Linked DNA regions of Homo sapiens. The protein of the gene in region 1 purifies or fractionates together with the protein of each later gene. This does not show direct contact. Each region holds a gene or a part of one and is shown in the gene's direction. Other genes may lie near its edges.

What was found. The genes of interacting proteins can lie anywhere in the genome.
Region 2: the proteins of DNAJC25 (region 1) and BLK purify together in Homo sapiens (affinity purification with mass spectrometry, with the first as the bait; one large-scale study listed by BioGRID). This does not show direct contact.

Annotation. Positions count from the first base shown.
Region 1 is NC_000009.12:111,640,077-111,645,757, forward strand, and holds part of DNAJC25 (dnaJ homolog subfamily C member 25 precursor), read left to right. Parts: intron 1-2,780; exon of another isoform or gene 2,781-3,018; intron 3,019-5,681.
Region 2 is NC_000008.11:11,549,887-11,553,386, forward strand, and holds part of BLK (tyrosine-protein kinase Blk), read left to right. Parts: intron 1-272; coding exon 273-376; intron 377-2,599; exon of another isoform or gene 2,600-3,500. UniProt on the Homo sapiens protein: Non-receptor tyrosine kinase involved in B-lymphocyte development, differentiation and signaling. B-cell receptor (BCR) signaling requires a tight regulation of several protein tyrosine kinases and phosphatases, and associated coreceptors.

The DNA of each region.
Region 1 (5,681 bases):
CAGGCACGCGCCGCCACGCCTGATTGGTTTTGGTGGAGACGGGGTTTCGCTGTGTTGGCCGGGCCGGTCTCCAGCCCCTAACCGCGAGTGATCCGCCAACCTCGGCCTCCCGAGGTGCCGGGATTGCAGATGGAGTCTCGTTCACTCAGTGCTCAATGGTGCCCAGGCTGGAGTGCAGTGGCGTGATCTCGGCTCACTACAACCTACACCTCCCAGCCGCCTGCCTTGGCCTCCCAAAGTGCCGAGATTGCAGCCTCTGCCCGGCCGCCACCCCGTCTGGGAAGTGAGGAGCGTCTCTGCCTGGCCGCCCATCGTCTGGGATGTGAGGAGCCCCTCTGCCCGGCTGCCCAGTCTGGAAAGTGAGGAGCGTCTCCGCCCGGCCGCCATCCCATCTAGGAAGTGAGGAGCGCCTCTTCCCAGCCGCCATCACATCTAGGAAGTGAGGAGCGTCTCTGCCCGGCCGCCCATCGTCTGAGATGTGGGGAGCGCCTCTGCCCCGCCGCCCCATCTGGGATGTGAGGAGCGCCTCTGCCCGGCCGAGACCCCGTCTGGGAGGTGAGGAGCGTCTCTGCCCGGCCGCCCCGTCTGAGAAGTGAGGAGACCCTCTGCCTGGCAACCACCCCGTCTGAGAAGTGAGGAGCCCCTCCGCCCGGCAGCTGCCCCGTCTGAGAAGTGAGGAGCCTCTCCGCCCAGCAGCCACCCCATCTGGGAAGTGAGGAGCGTCTCCGCCCGGCAGCCACCCCGTCCGGGAGGGAGGTGGGGGGGGCCAGCCCCCCGCCCGGCCAGCCGCCCCATCCGGGAGGGAGGTGGGGGGTCAGCCCCCCCGCCCGGCCAGCCGTGCCGTCCGGCCAGCCGTGCCGTCCGGGAGGGAGGTGGGGGGGTCAGCCCCCCGCCTGGCCAGCCGTGCCGTCCGGGAGGGAGGTGGGGGGGTCAGCCCCGCGCCCGGCCAGCCGCCCCGTCCGGGAGGTGAGGGGCGCCTCTGCCCGGCCGCCCCTACTGGGAAGTGAGGAGCCCCTCAGCCTGGCCAGCCACCCCGTCCGGGAGGGAGATGGGGGGGTCAGCCCCCCCACCCGGCCAGCCGCCCCATCCGGGAGGGAGGTGGGGGGGTCAGCCCCCCGCCTGGCCAGCCGCCCCGTCCGGGAGGGAGGTGGGGGGGTCAGCCCTCCCCCCGGCCAGCCGCCCCGTCTGGGAGGTGAGGGGCGCCTCTGCCCGGCCGCCCCTACTGGGAAGTGAGGAGCCCCTCTGCCCGGCCAGCCGCCCCATCCGGGAGGGAGGTGGGGGGGTCAGCCCCCCGCCCGGCCAGCCGCCCTGTCTGGGAGGGAGGTGGGGGGGTCAGCCCTCCGCCCGGCCAGCCGCCCCGTCTGGGAGGTGAGGGGTGCCTCTGCCCGGCCGCCCCTACTGGGAAGTGAGGAGCCCCTCTGCCCGGCCAGCCGCCCGGTCCGGGAGGGAGGTGGGGGGGTCGGACCCCGCCCGGCCAGCCGCCCCATCCGGGAGGGAGGTGGGGGGGTCGGCCCCCCGCCCGGCCAGCCGCCCCGTCCGGGAGGGAGGTGGGGGGGTCAGCCCCCCGCCCGGCCAGCCGCCCCGTCCGGGAGGGAGGTGGGGGGGGGGTCAGCCCCCCTGCCCGGCCAGCCACCCCGTCCGGGAGGTGAGGGGCGCCTCTGCCCGGCCGCCCCTACTGGGAAGTGAGGAGCCCCTCTGCCCGGCCAGCCGCCCCGTCCGGGAGGGAGGTGGGGGGGGTCAGCCCCCCCGCCCGGCCAGCCGCCCCGTCCGGGAGGTGAGGGGCGCCTCTGCCCGGCCGCCCCTACTGGGAAGTGAGGAGCCCCTCTGCCCAGCCAGCCGCCCCGTCCGGGAGGGAGGTGGGGGGTTCAGCCCCCCGCCCGGCCAGCCGCCCCGTCCGGGAGGGAGGTGGGGGGGGTCAGCCCCCCTGCCCGGCCAGCCGCCCCGTCCGGGAGGTGAGGGGCGCCTCTGCCCGGCCGCCCCTACTGGGAAGTGAGGAGCCCCTCTGCCCGGCCACCACCCCGTCTGGGAGGTGTGCCCAATAGCTCATTGAGAACGGGCCAGGATGACAATGGCGGCTTTGTGGAATAGAAAGGCGGGAAAGGTGGGGAAAAGATTGAGAGATCGGATGGTTGCCGTGTCTGTGTGGAAGGAAGTAGACATGGGAGACTTTTCATTTTGTTCTGCACTAAGAAAAATTCCTCTGCCTTGGGATCCTGTTGATCTGTGACCTTACCCCCAACCCTGTGCTCTCTGAAACATGTGCTGTGTCCACTCAGAGTTAAATGGATTAAGGGCGGTGCAAGATGTGCTTTGTTAAACAGATGCTTGAAGGCAGCATGCTCGTTAAGAGTCATCACCAATCCCTAATCTCAAGTAACCAGGGACACAAACACTGCGGAAGGCCGCAGGGTCCTCTGCCTAGGAAAACCAGAGACCTTTGTTCACTTGTTTATCTGCTGACCTTCCCTCCACTATTGTCCCATGACCCTGCCAAATCCCCCTCTGTGAGAAACACCCAAGAATTATCAATAAATAAATAAATAAATAAATAAATAAATAAATAAATAAAAAATAAATGTAAAACTAGCTGCAATATCAAATTATTACAATTTATGTACTGAGATCAAACAATTCATGATTTCCTTCAAGGGCAGGAACATAATATATTTTTGCCTCTGGGGAGGGGGGATGACCCTTTAAGAGAAGGAAGGATTCAGTACTTTCTTTGCTTGTGGGTTTCCTCTTGTTCACTTTTGATCTAGATATTGGTTATGTTCCAGTCCTCCTGCATATGCCCAAGAGGATTGGGAGTGGAATGGACACCAGCAGAAGCACCACAGTTATTCCTGTAGAGATTAGAAACAAGGAGCTTATTGCCCTGCTTGTCAAGGCTCAGGACAGACAGGAGGAAGAAACAAGTATAAAGGTTTTGGTTTTGGAAAGAAGTTGGAATCTCCAGACCCTGGGACCTTAAGATCCACAAAATTGCTGAAAGAAAAAGTACTACCTTATTGAAAGGTAAGATATTAAACTGTTTTAAGGTTTAAGCTATGTTAGCCACAGTAGCATATTTTCATAAACTATGAATTCAAGCAGTCACTTCTGCCAAACTGAAGTTTTTATGACATCGCCACCCATCCAGCCTTGCTGGTGAGATGGAGACCTATGTAGTGGAGAGATGCATATTGCAAGGAAAAACCTTCACAAAAGTTCACTCGTTTTTGAAATAATGTTTACTGAATGCCAGGCACTGTACTAGGCCTTGGAGTTACCCTACCTACTTTCCAGAACTTCTCATTCTAAGAAAAGAAAAAAACTGATGATTACAATGTGATAAGTGCTATAATAAATAGGTACCAAGTGTAATAAGAACGATCCAACTGTCTGGGGCAGTAATGTTTACATTCTAAAGGATTAATAGGACTCATGAGGTTCAAATTAGAGAGAAATAGACATTTGAAGACATAGGTATGAAAAGGAACATTGTGTTGGAATAACACACCAAATTCCAGAAATTGCTGTCTGAATGTTTGCTATGGGTAAAAGAGGGGAAACTGATAAGGGATGTTGCTAGGTAGGTAAGTTTGGACCAGTTGTGAAGGCCTGGTGGCATGCAAAGGAAATTTTAACTTTGGCCATGGGAAAGCACTGGAGATTAAAAAAAAAAAAAAAATTGTGTGGCTACCTTAGTTCAAGATGAGTACGAAAAAAATAAGAATGTACCTTAGCTTTCTACTTGAGTCCCAGAAGGATGGTCCTTCTTATTATGTCTTTTCTTTGCTAATATTCTTGGTATCCTCTTGTTCTTACTAGGTTGATTCTAAACTTTGTAGGTTACTAAAGAGCAGAATTTTGACTTAGGCTGTTGAGAACTCCTAAGTTTTACCTATTTGTGCTGCTCTTGATTCTAAAGTATATGCATGCCTCACTGATCATCATCAGTATGCATGAAAACTGATCATTTTCTTCATTTTGGAGAGAAAGCTTTAAGCCCTAGAATGGAGATAAAATAAGTTGAATAAATGCTGTAACGAGGAAGTGGCCAACTTTTTAGTCTAATCATGGCCAAAACAGGGTCATAAATTTGTGGTGACCCTAAAGAAAAGAAAACCATCCAAAGAGAAGTCAGACTTGACCCTGAGATGTCTTGCAGGAATTTGGTAGTTTGAGGACTCCATTAGGGGACCTTGAACAGATTGCACAGGCTCTGCTTGCAGTAGAGAGGCCAGACACAAGGTATAAATTTTGGAGTTGCTTGTGTTGGAGCATTAGTTGACCATTGTGTTAAAGGAATTCAGGACTTGGTAAAGTCAATAATCTAGAAACCAGTGAGAAAATGGTGACCCTGGTGAAAGATCTGAGTGAAATGTTTGAAGAGGGATGATATCTACGTTCTGTAGAACAGAGATAAGAGAACAAAAAGAGAAGATAGTCACTGGACACATGATGTCCGCTTACCAGATTTCAACGACACTCCAAGACCTTACTCCATATACTTCAACCAGGAGGAGTGCAGACAGCCGGGGCAAAGGGCTGCACAGAGACAATGAGGCTCATAGGAGTCTGATCTCCGTGTGGCATTTCGTTTAAAAGCTACATGTAATCTAGTTGTAGCAAGAAGAATTGTACTTGAAGAAATACGTTTCAAAAGGCATCTGTCATGATTGGGATGCCGAGTTAAAGTCAAGGATTTAAGGCGCCAAAACGGCATTTCTATAAAATTAGCCCAAAAAGCAGAGGGAGAATGGGAAAATTCTCAGATGATTTCTTGAGGTACTCAAAAGGAGACACATGAAGAGACACAGGCTTTAGTCTTCAGCGCTGTCTGTGTGATCCTTATATAGGTTTACCCTTTCTAGGTTAGGAGCTCTGGAATAGGATGATGACTTAAAGAAGGAGTCACGGATTGACAGTTGAGGCATATAGCAGCTGCCACAAGAAAATCCTTTTTGACTGAAGAGAACATACAAGGAGTGAATCTGAAAATAATACTAGCTTGAGCTCACACCTCGTTGTATAACTGAGAGTTTTCATATTGGCCCTCCATATAAATATATTCGTATCTAATTAAGCTAGCTACTAGTTTACATCGTTTCATATACTGGTGAGAGGTAAGAAATTGTTTGAATGTAATGAATATGGGAGAACTTACTGAGAATGATCTCACACAGATTCAAAATTTTTTTTTTTTTTTTGGAGACAGAGTCTCGCTCTGTCGCCCAGGCTGGAGTGCAGTGGTACAGTCTCGGCTCACTGCAACCTCCACCTCCCAGGTTCAAGTGATTCTCTTGCCTCAGCCTCCCGAGTAGCTGGGATTATAAGCACAAGCCACCACGACTGGCTAATTTTTGTATTTTCAGTAGAAATGGGATTTTGCCATGTTGGCCAGGCTGGTCTCGAACTCCTGACCTCAAGTTACCTGCCTGCCTTGGCCTCCCAAAGTGCTGGGATTACAGGAGTGAGCGCCTGTGCCCGGCCCAAAATTCTTAATAGAAAATACGTAATGATTTTAATGGATACAAGCAAGATTTAGTCATTAACAAATTTCTTACTTTAAATCTAAAAAACTACATGTTGGAGGACTCAGAAGGTGATCCTAAACAGACCCCAGAGAATCTGTCTGCAGTAGCAAGGCACTAAGTTTAGATTTTGAAATGCCTTTAGCTAGGAATCTGCAGTTA
Region 2 (3,500 bases), on another chromosome or scaffold:
AAGCAAAATTAACAAAGGTCAACCAACTAGTGTTCTTGTTTCGTTCTAGGAAAACAGTGAGTCCAGGGCTGACAGGAAGCGGAACTGGAAGGGCAGCGGGGCAGAGGGCACTGACTCCATCACGGTGTGAGGAGCAGCAGCTCAGGGCCGACTGGGACCAGAAATGCTAGATTTTTATTTCTTGGGGACAGGCAGTGCAGGAGGGAGGCTGTGTGGGAATACTCCGAGGAGCAGGGTCGCTCTGAGTTTCACCTGTTCCTGCCGTTTTCCAGGTGGTTCTTTAGATCACAGGGTCGGAAGGAGGCTGAGAGGCAGCTTCTTGCTCCAATCAACAAGGCCGGCTCCTTTCTTATCAGAGAGAGTGAAACCAACAAAGGTAGGCTTGGTGGCTTTGCCTGCCTTCCTTGCCCTGCTCCTCCCGGGAAGGCGCCTCCAGAGGCCTGGCCCTGGAGTGAGAGGGGAAGGGGTGACTGCCAGGAGAACCAGCAGCTTCCGGGCTTGTGTCCCTCCCAATTCAGGCCCTGCCCGGGAGTTGACATGGGGGCTGTCCACACAGTCCTCCCTGTCCCGGCTGGAAACCACCTGGGCACAGGAAGCCGGGTGGACAGGGGTGGTCCCACGCCAGACTGGCCCTGCTGCCCAGTCAGCAGGAACACCGAGGCCAGTGGGGGCCAGGGAAGGGGGAACCCTGAGCCCTTAACCACCAGCCTCTTTGGAATCAAGGATTAGGGGGAGCTCAAAGAATCCTTCAAGATCATCTCAGCCAGAGGCTGCAGGTAGCATATGTTAGGAAGTGGCCTGTGCCGTGATGTAAGAGAAGAGGGTGGTAATTGAGGGGAGCCCATGCCAGTCTAGACACTCATGAGTTCAAATCCACTGACTGAGCAAAACAGCTGCCATCACCCTCAGGGGTTTTCTCTCTTTCTCTGTCATTTGGCTTTCTTTCCTTCTTAATTTTTTTGGTGTAAAATATAAAACACATATAAAGCTTGCATGAAGTATGAATGTGTAATTCTAAATCATATAGGGTAATAATAAACAAATCCCTGTGTAATGACAGCCAAGAGAAAGAGCATCCCAGACCACCAGGAGCCCCCTCACTCCCCCACTTGGGCTCCTTCCTGATTCAACCCCCACCCTCAAGAGCTACCTGCTGTCCTGACTTGGATGGAAATCCTTCCTTGCTCTTCTCTGTGGTTTCGCCACCATGTCTTGTCTGTTTTTTCAGCTTGATGTAGATAGAATCACTGTTTTTGTTTCTGTGTGTCTTGCTTCTGTCACTCAGCAGTGTTTGTGGGATTCTATGTTAGTTTCCTGGGCTGCCGTAACAAAGTGGCACAGACTGGGTGGCTTCCACCACAGAAGCTTATTATCTCACAGCTCTGGAGGCTGGAAGTCCACGACCAAAGTGTCAGCAGCGTTGGCTCCTCCCGGGAGCTCTCTCCTTGGCTTGCCGATGGCCGTCTTCTCTGTGTCCTCACGTGGCCGTCCCTCCATGCATGTCTGTGTCCTAATCTCTTCTTGTAAGGACACCTGTCAATTTGGATTAGGGCCCACCCATATGACCTCATTTTAACTTAATCACCCCTTTAAAGGCTCTGTCTCCACATATAGCCACATTCTCAGGACCGAGGGTTAGGACTTTAACATATGAATTGGGAGCGCACATGATTCAACCAGTAACAGATTCATTCATGTGGTTGAGGATGGTGAGCCTGTTCATGTTCATTGCTATACAGAATCCCGGGTGTGACCATTCCAGAGTCAAGTTAGCCATTCTCATGTTGTGGGCATTGAGTTGTTTCCAGTTTGGGGCTGTTAATGCATGTGTTGCACCGAACCCTATTATGGTCCCTGGTGCTCACTGGCCACTAGCTTTTCGTCTGTAAGATACTAATCCACTTGACAGATGAGGAAAGGGAGTCCCTGAAACAGGAAGTGACTTGCTGGGGGCCAACAGTAAGCATCAGAGCCCAAAGCACCAGTGACCACATCATCTAAGAGGCTGAGAGGCTTCCCAAGCTCTACAACGTGGCAAGCTAGGGTGACCCAGGGGCTTCCCAGGCAGTATGAAGAATGCTTTGCTCATCAGGAAGCTGTCCACAGGGACCAGGTACAGCCTTGTAGCCAATTTTAACTGGAGAGGAGATGGTGACAGTGACATCAGAGGAGGAAAGGGAGAGAGAGTGTCTGGAATATGAGTCTGGTTCCCTGTGGTTGGGGCGATGAGAATGGACAGAGTTGTCACCTGGTGGGAGCACCCTTGGGCTGTCCATTGGTTCCATCTGTGGCTCAAGAACAGCAGCCAGAGTGGAAACCCAGAGTATGAAAAGCTGTCATAGCACCCTGTGATTCTCTGGGGACATCATGAGGCCTTGGTGCCCCACAAAGGGGCAGGACCAGGTTGGGGAGCAGGAAGGGTGCATTGGAAAGCTGGGGTGCTCTGTGCAGGATTTCTTGGAATATGCCAATGAATGCATATACATACATATACATACACATAGATATATGCATTTTATATTTATATTCATATTGGATATTGTCACTATTTCATTTTTGTGGCAGAGCACCTCTGTACAAGAAATAATTTGGGAATCACTGGAGATGACATAAGTGTTTTATTGTTGTTCCAGGACATTTCAAACATACACAGAAGTAGAGAAAATAGTTTAGTGGAACCCCTGGTACCCAACAGCCAGCTTCAACAATTATCAACTGAGCCAGTCTTGTTTCATCTGTATCTCCCGCTCCACCCCTGTTCTTTCGAAGTAAATCCCAAACATCATGTCATGTCACCCTGGAAATGATATTTCAACCATTGCCTATTGCTAAGGTGAAAGCCTCCCCACCCCCTGCCCAATCTGGTGTGGAGGAAGAAGGGGTTCTCTATGAGTCTGGCATCTTTTCCTGTCCATGTCCACCCCAGGAAGCCAGTCCAAGCTGGGAATAGGCCATATGGGACCAGGGCTGCAGGACTGTTCAACCATCATCACCACCACACGCACATACACATGCACACATGAACACACATGCACATATGCACAAATGCACACATATACACACATGTGCATACACAGGCATGTGTGCACACATACACATGCAAACACATACACATGTCCACGCATGCACATATACACACACACGCACACATATACATGTGCACATATGCACAGATGCAATGAACACGTGTGCAACACATGTACACACCTTACACGTACATATGCACACACACACACAACTCCAAAGCAAGACCCCTCTGCTTCTCCGAGCCACAGCAGTGAATGCAAGACAGGGATGGAAGCAGGGGAGTGAGTTCTACCCTTCGTGGCCTCCGGGGTGTCCTTGAGCCTCTCAAGCCTCAGTTTACTGGTGTCTATGTGAGGATAGACTAGTTTCACAGCTCAAAGGCAGGCGGTCCTTCAGTGCTGAGAAATCTTCATCTCAGAGCCAGGCCCTGCCTGCCCAGGGCAGTCCAGACATACCACAGAGGCAGGGGATCC